Regions from separate parts of the Homo sapiens genome. Here all the other regions are linked to region 2. The links come from fine-mapping of genetic effects on gene expression. A gene starts in region 2. Each other region holds a variant in brackets. All regions are shown on one strand. Distances are between the middles of the regions.

Region 1 (2,845 bases), 65 kb before region 2:
AAGCCGAAAGCCTGAGACAGTAAACCTAACGTGGTTAAGAGCATCTGCTCTGGAGCCAACCTAGTTAAAACACAACTTTGTTATTTATATTAACTATGTGACCTCGGGCAAGTTGGGTTCTTCTGAGACTCATATGCCTTAAAATAAGTAGAACACTTAGAATAGTAAGTTCTAACTAAATTACCACACAGTAAATTTATAATTATTCTTTTTTTTTTTTTTGAAATGGAGTTTCGCTCTTGTTGCCCAGGCTGGAGTTCAGTGGTACAATCTCCCCTCACCGCAATCTCCGCCTTCTGGGTTCAAGCGATTCTCCTGCCTCAGCCTCCCAAGTAGCTGGGATTACGGGTATGCGCCACCAGGCCCAGCTAATTTTTTTGTATATTTAGTAGAGATGGGGTTTCTCCATGTTGGTCAGGCTGGTCTCAAACTCCTCACCTCAGGTGATCCACCTGCCTTGGCCTCCCAAAGTGCTGGGATTACAGGCGTGAGCCACTGCGCCTGGCCTACAATTACTGTTCTTAATGCCTTATTTCCTAATTCCCATCAGTAACTCTTTTTTTTTTTTTTTTTTTTTTTGAGATGGAGTCTCGCCCTGTTGCCTGGTCTGGAGTGCAGTGGCGTGATCTCGGCTCACTGCAACCTCCCCCTCAACTTCAAGCGATTCTCCTGCCTCAGCCTCCCAAGTAGCTGGGATTACAGGTGCCCACCACCACGCTCAGCTAATTTTTTTGTATTTTTAGTAGAGACGGGGTTTCATCATGTTGGCCAGGCTGGTCTCAAACTCCTGACCTCATGATCCGCCCGCCTCAACCTCCCAAAGTGGTGGGATTACAGGCGTGAGCCAATGCACCCTGCCTTCCCATCAGTAACTCTTATTGTCAGTTCTACCACCAAACATCCTGCATCTGTCCACTTCTCTCCATCTCTACAACTGCTACCCTCATCCAAGCCACTTGCATCCCTCCCTGCCTTAGTATTTCCTCCCTTCTTCAGTTCTTCCCCTACGATCCATCCTCCACAAAGCAGCCAAAGGGATTCTTTCAATATATAAAACTGGCCGGGCGCGGTGGCTCATGCCTATAATCCCAGCACTTTGGGAGGCCAAGGCGAGCGGATCACGAGGTCAGGAGATCAAGACCATCCTGGCTAACATGGTGAAACCCCGTCTCTACTAAAAATACAAAAAATTAGCTGGGCATGGTGACGGACGCCTGTAGTCCCAGCTACTCAGGAGGCTGAGGCAGGAGAATGGCGTGAACCCGGGAGGCAGAGCTTGCAGTGAGCCGAGATGGCGCCACTGCACTCCAGCCTGGGCAACAGAGTGAGACTCCATCTCAAAAAAAAAAAAATTAAAAAAAAAAAAAAAAAAAAAATATATATATATATATATATATATAACCAAATATAATTCCTCTGCTTCAAACCCTCCAATTTCTCCTCATTACACCTTAGTTAAAAATCCAAATTCCTTTCCTTGGTCTTAAATGCCCTACACATCAGTGATTCACAACCCTAGTCATATATTAGAATCATCTATGGAGGTTTTTAAAAAATTATTCATGCTTAAGCTCCATCCTGGACCTATTAGGTCAGAATCTGGATGTGATGCTCACCAAAATTTTAAAAGCCTACCAGGTGATTCTTCTTTTTTGTCGTTGTTGGAGACGGAGTCTCACTCTGTTGCCCAGGCTGGAGTGCAGTGGCGCAATCTCAGCTCACTGCAACCTCTGTCTCCCGG[G/T]TTCAAGCGATTCTCCTGCCTCAGCTTCCCAAGTAGCTGGGATTAAAGGCGCCCACCACCAAGCCCAGCTAATTTTTGTATGTTTAATAGAGATGGGGTTTCGCCTTGTTGGCCAGGCCAGTCTTGAACTCCTGAACTTGTGATCTGCCTTTCTCGGCCTCCCAAAGTGCTGGGTTTACAGGTGTGAGCCACCACACCTGGCCAATTTTTGTATTTTAAGTAGAGACGGGGTTTCACCATGTTGGCCAGGCTGGTCTTGAACTCCTGACCTCAGGAGATCCACCTGCCTCAGCCTCCCAAAATGCTGGGATTACAGGTGTGAGTCATCTCGCCAGGCCTTTTTTTTTTTTTTTTAGAAGGAGTTTTGCTCTTGTTGCCCAGCCTGGCATGCAGTGGCATGATCTCGACTCACTGCAACCTCCAACTCCTGGGTTCAAGCTATTCTCCAGCCTCAGCCTCCCGAGTGGCTAGGATTATAGGCATGTGCTACCACACCCGGCTAATTTTTGTATTTTTAGTAGAGACAGGGTTTCCTCACGTTGGCCAGGATGGTCTCAAACTCCTGACCTCAGGTATCTGCCCATCTCAGCCTCCCAAAGTGCTGGGATGAGCCACCGCGCCCAGCCTCAAATTGACTGATTTAAAAGAATATTTATGTAGTCTCCTCCCCAAGAATCTGGCACACAAGTTAACGAAGAAAGAAGCGGCTCATGGGTAATGGGTAGGAGAAACCAAAAGAGAAAAAAAATCCATCTACCAGATAGCCAACTTTGGTCCAGCAAGAGGTTTCCAATCTGAATCTTGGCACTCTAAATGGGTACTAAATTGAACATAAAATGTTTCCCAAATAGACAAACATAAAACACCTTCATGATTCTTTCAGACTGAGATATTTTAAGAAACTTTAAAAGGAAATAAAAAATCTAAGTAACTGAATGACCAAGACTACTACTAATGTAAGTTCTAGTGGTACCACTTTACATCTAGAAATGAAGGTATTACCTTTGGGATATCTCCCTTAATACCTGGAGGGAGCCGCAGGATCCAGAAGTTCCTGTTGCGCAGCAGGTTCTCCAAGTTCTCCAGCCGCCTCTGCAGCAGCCC
Region 2 (2,845 bases):
CACAAGGTCAGGAGTTTGAGGCCAGCCTGACCAACATGGTGAAACCTCGTCTCTACTAAAAATACAAAAATTAGCCGGGCGTGGTGGCAAATGCCTGTAATCCCAGCTACTCGGGAGGCTGAGGCAGGAGAATTGCTTGAATCCAGGAGACAGAGGTTGCAGTGAGCCGAGATTGCGCCACAGCACTCCAGCCTGGGTGACAAGAGTGAGACTTTGTCTCCAAAAAAAAAAAATTGTACTGTATAACAGTTGTAAAAATAAAAAACGTTAAACAGTAAGGTGCATGTACATTTCACGATTCTGTGGCAAACACAGATGCGTATATGCTCCTCAGCCTACGCAGGGACTATTTTATTTCTTATGCACATCCTCTCCAAACTACACACTTTTCCTTTGCTACTTCAGCCTGACACCTAAGACATGACTAAGACAGAATGCGAGGTTGATTTTCTGGAGACAATCGCCACCCCCTTCCTCGCCCTCTCTCCTTTCTGTCTCTTCCTGGTTTCCCCACCTCTCCCCTGTTCTTGCGTTCTCGTGTTTCTCACGCCCTGTGTCATGGCCTCCTCCGTCTTCTCCTCCTACTCTGTCTCTGTCTCCTGCCGGGGCCCGGGGTGCCCGACCGCAGCCTTGGGCCACCCTGAGTCCCTGCAGGCGGCCCTGAGGCCGGGGTGGCTTCCGCATGGGGTCTCTGCCCAAGGCCGTTCTCTGCTAAGGAAGGAGCGTGGCCGCCCGGGGAGCCCGGAGGGCTCTAGACCCACGGCGACCGGACCTGGTGGGCGGACCCCGCCTCCGCGTCCCCGGCGGGACAAGCATGGGGCCCCCACGGCCTCCGCGCCCCCGGCGGGACGGATGCCCCGGGCCACCGCGGGCAGCGCGCGCCCCCCACCCACTTTCCGGCCTCGCTGGATTCCCGGGACCCCCTCACAGACGAAGCCTGTCTCGGGGGCGGCTTTGGGAGGAACCGCACCGGAGGTTCCCCTCTCGCTGCCTCTCAGTCTGGGTTTCTGTGGAGCGCGTCTCCCTGTCCCTGTCCCTGATCTCTCCCTGTCCCTGTCCCTGATCTCTCCATGTCCTGCCCCTCCGTTTCCCCTCCGGCCAGCTCCTCAGCTTGTCTCTGACCGCTTCCCTCCCCAGATCCCGGGAATCCGAGGGTCCCTCAAAGACCGGCGTGCTGCGGCCTGCTCTGAGGGCGCCCGGGCCCCTGGGTCCCTCCTCTGAGGACCGACGCTCAGGCAGCGCCGCTTCTTCCTCCCGCAGGAGGCGCTGTAGGACTGAGCGGCAGCCGCGGCCGGGCGCCGGGTCCCAGCATGCACCGCGCCCGGCCGGCGCTGCGTTTGGGGGCCACCCGGGCTGTGCGTGGGAGTCGGGTTGGGGCGGAGCGGAGGGGAGTCAGTGCGCAGCAGGGCAGGTTCCTGCGGAGCCGCCGGAGACGGTCGGGTTTGCCAGGGCCGGGCGGGACCGCGGGGACCATGGCGGAGCCGCCTCGGGTAAGCGGGCTAGCCTGTTTGGACGCCCGGTTTCGGGGTCGTGGTGGGTCCTCGGGTTCCGGGCTCGCCCGTGTCCTGGGGTCCCCGTGAGTGCGCGCGGTGCACGGGTAGGACGGAGTCTGCAGGCTGCTTCTGCTGGGGATGTGGATTCCGGGCCCTGCGGTGAGCAGGTGGCCTCCGCTCCCGCGGCTTGTCCGTGGCCAAACCCCTGGACAAAGCCGAGCGTGGACCGAGGCCGACCTAGGAGCGGGGCGGAGCCTGGGCGAGGATGCCGGGCGGACGGGGAGCGGACGGTGGAAAGGATAGAAAGGTTTGGGGCCAGAGGTGGATGTTACAGGTCAACCAGTTTTACATCATAGTCACCGAAATCAGAACAACTGTTCCAAAAAGTTTAAGATTCCGAATGGTTGAAATGGTGTTTGGCGGGGGCTTCAATGTCAGAATTTATTGTCTAGCGTGATTTGGGTTGAGTGTAAGATGATACGTTGGGAAGAGTAGAAGAGGATACAAAAAATTAAGTTAGTGGTTTCTTAAAATCGAGGTTTAGAGGGTATTTTTATCTTGTAAACTTTAATGTTGAGGATTTTTGCTGATTATTAAATGAATTAGGCCGGGCGCGGTGGCTCACGCCTGTAATCCCAGCACTTTGGGAGGCCGAGGCGGGTGGATCACGTGAGGTCGGGAGTTCGAGACCAGCCTGGCCAACATGGTGAAACCCCAACTCTACTAAAAATACAAAAAATTAGCCTGGCATGATGGCGGGCGCCTGTAATCCCAGCTACTCGGGAGGCTCAGGCAGGAGAATTGTTTGAACCCGGGAGACGGAGGTTGCAGTGAGCCGAGACTGCACCATTGCACTCCAGCCTGGGCAACAAGAGCGAAACTCCGTCTCCAAAAATATATACATACCTATATATATGGGGAAAGGATATAAACAGCCAAATCACAGACCTGAAAATAAATTATTAATGAGTAAAAGAATGGATTTTAAAACTTGTGACATTCAGGCCAGGCGCCGTGGTTTACGCCTGTAATCCCAGCACTTTGAGAGGCCGAGGTGGGCAGATCACTTGACGTCAGGAGTTCAAGACCAGCCTGGCCAACATGGCGAAAAACTGTCTCTACTAAAAAATACGAAAATTAGCTGAGTGTGGTGGCGGACGCCTGTAATCCCAGCTCCTCGGGAGGCTGAGGTAGGGAGAATTGCTTGAACTCGGGAGGTGGAGGTTGCAGCGAACTGAGATGGCGCCACTGCACTCCAGCCTGGGCGACAGAGCGAGACTCTATCTCAAAAACAAACAAACTTGTGACATTCAGACGGTGGAACACTATACAAAATTAAAATAAATTAGCTA
Region 3 (2,500 bases), 21 kb after region 2:
AAGCTCATCGAGCACATCAGAACGCACACGGGAGAGAAGCCTTTTCAGTGTCCCAAGTGTGACAAGAGTTTCCGCCTGAAGGCGCAGCTGCTCAGCCATCAGGGCCTGCACACAGGGGAGAGGCCTTTTCACTGCCCTGAGTGTGACAAGAACTTCCGGGAAAGGGGACACATGCTGAGGCACCAGCGCATCCACAGGCCCGAGAGGCCCTTTGCCTGTGGCGATTGTGGGAAGGGCTTCATTTACAAGTCTAAGCTTGCGGAGCACATCAGAGTACACACAAAATCCTGTCCTGCTCCAAATGAACTGGACATTAAGAAAAGGCTCAGCCAACTGTTTGCAATGATAGAGGCCGATTGGAGTTGAGGCAGAGTGGGACATCCAAAGCGTTGAGCAGGATTGGTATTGCCCAGGAATCCACAGCAACAGTAGCCAGACCCGCTGGTAGACGGGTTTTAGGAGCAGGTATCCTTCTTTGAGCAAGAGTGTCATGCAAGTTAGGAATATGAAGAACCACAAAGGATTTTCTCTTCAGAAGCATCACCAATTATATTTCTTTCTTTTTTTTTTTTTTTTCCAAGATGGAGTTTTGCTCTGTCACCCAGGCTGGAGTGCAGTGGCGTGATCCCAGCTATATTGGAAAAGACAGCATTATAAAACAAGGACATAATTTTATGAAAAAGGAGGCATCTGCAAACGAAAACAATTTCTACGAGGTTATATGTGATTGTTAACATTTTTAAGAAAAGGTGCACACAGAAATCCAGATAAGATGTGATTACCTTTGTGCATTTGTATAAAAATATATGTGTGTAATTATAAGGAAGTTCTGACATTTTAAAAAGTAATTGTTATAAAAGTAAATTTAGGCCAGGCACAGTGGTTCATGCCTGTAATCCCAGCACTTGGGAGGCCGTGGCAGGAGGATCACGAGCCAAGGAGTTTGAGACCAGCTTGGGCAACATGGCAAAACCCTGTCTCTACTAAAAATACAAAAATTAGCCAGGCATGGTGGTACACACCAGTAGTCCCAGCTACTCCTGAAGCTGAGGTGGGAGGATCGCCTGAGCCCAGGGAGGTCAAGGCTGCAGTGAGCAATGATGGTGCCACTGCACTCCAGTATGGATGACATAGTATGACACTGTCTCAAAAAAAAAAAAAAAAAAATTTGGGCCAGGGGTGGTGGCTCACGCCTGTAATCCCAGCACTTTGGGAGGCTGAGGCGGGTGGATCACAAGGTCAGGAGATCGAGACCATCCTGGCAAACACAGTGAAACCCTGTCTCTACTAAAAATACAAAAAAAAAAAAAAAA[T/AAAAAAT]TAGCCGGGTGTGGTGGCAGGCACCTGTAGTCCCAGGAGGCTGAGGCAGGAGAATGGTGTGAGCCCAGGAGGCGGAGCTTGCAGTGAGCCAAGATCAAGCCACTGCACTCCAGCCTGGGTGACAGAGCGAGACTCCGTCTCAAAAAAAAAAAAAAAACAAATTTAGTATCTCCCAAAGGAAGCTTGGCAAGTCCTTTTCATTCTCTTTAGAATTTATAGAATATAGCCTGGCGTGGTGGCTCATACCTATAATCCCATTACTTTGGGAGGTCAAGGCAGGAGGATCACTTGAGGTCAGGAGTTCAAGACCAGACTGGCCAACATGGTGAAACACCATCTCTACCAAAAAGTACAAAAATTAGCCGGGCATGGTGGCATGCACCTGTAGTCTTGGCTACGCCGGAGGCTGAGGCAGGAGAATCGCTTGAACCCCAGAGGTGGAGGTTGCATTGAGCTGGGATTGCACCACTGCATTCCAACTTGGGAGACAGAGCAAGACTCCATCTCAAAAAAATTATAGAATATATAATTAATATATAAAGATACAGAATAATATATAATTATAAATTCCTTTTTTTTTTTCTTTGAGATGGAGTCTTGCTCTGTCGCCCAGGCTGGGGTGCAGTGGCATGATCTCGGCTCACCGCAAGCTCCACCTTCCGGGTTCATGCCATTCTCCTGCCTCAGGCTCCCAAGTAGCTGGGACCACAGGCGCCCGCCACCACGCCCAGCTAATTTTTTGTATTTTTAGTAGAGACAGAGTTTCACCGTGTTAGCCAGGATGGTCTCGATCTCTTGACCTCGTGATCCGCCCGCCTCAGCCTCCCAAAGTGCTGGGATTACAGGCATGAGCCACGGTGCCGGCCTTTCTTTTCTTTTTTTTTTTTTTTTTGGAGTCTCTGTCAGCCAGCCTGGAGTACAGTGCCATGATCTTAGCTCGCTGTATCCTCCACCTCCCAAGCTCAAGTGATCCTTCTTTCTCAACCTCCTGAGTAGCTGGGACTAAAGGCGCACGCCATCACGTGCCACCATGCCTATTTTTGTATTTTTAGTAGAGACTAAAAATACAAAAAATATAAAATGTGGGCCAGGCTGGTCTTGAACTCCTGACCTCAGGTGATCTACCCACCTCAGCCTCCCAAAGTGCTGGGATTATAGGTGTGAGCCACCGTGCCCGGCCTATACTT

Which allele goes with the higher level. Alleles are on the strand shown, and positions count from the first base shown. SD is a standard deviation of normalised expression in the study named. Not every link is listed here.
For the expression in monocytes of the gene that starts at base 1,395 in region 2, G is the low allele of the variant in region 1 and T is the other (large effect, 1.0 SD a copy in Schmiedel 2018).

The links. PIP is the estimated chance that this variant, and not a neighbour inherited with it, causes the effect. A credible set is the group of variants that fine-mapping cannot tell apart.
Region 1: its variant is the best candidate, but not a certain one, in a credible set for the expression of ZNF786 in monocytes (Schmiedel 2018, PIP 0.77).
Region 3: its variant is the best candidate, but not a certain one, in a credible set for the expression of ZNF786 in whole blood (INTERVAL, PIP 0.54).

Annotation. Positions count from the first base shown.
Region 1 is chr7:149,154,239-149,157,083 of GRCh38, reverse strand. ZNF398 (zinc finger protein 398) reads right to left here. Exons shown (of 6, transcript NM_170686.3): 2 at 2,744-2,845. Among named protein-coding and RNA genes, the nearest start is that of ZNF398, 8.2 kb to the right of the region's middle. RefSeq lists enhancers at 1-383, 384-951. The variant G/T (reference allele first, on the strand shown) is at 1,742.
Region 2 is chr7:149,089,268-149,092,112 of GRCh38, reverse strand. ZNF786 (zinc finger protein 786) reads left to right here and starts at 1,395. Exons shown (of 4, transcript NM_152411.4): 1 at 1,395-1,490. The coding sequence starts at 1,473. RefSeq lists silencers at 544-1,033, 1,154-1,453.
Region 3 is chr7:149,068,289-149,070,788 of GRCh38, reverse strand. It overlaps ZNF786 (zinc finger protein 786), which reads left to right. Exons shown (of 4, transcript NM_152411.4): 4 at 1-1,148. The coding sequence ends at 366. Among named protein-coding and RNA genes, the nearest start is that of ZNF786, 21 kb to the left of the region's middle. The variant T/AAAAAAT (reference allele first, on the strand shown) is at 1,314.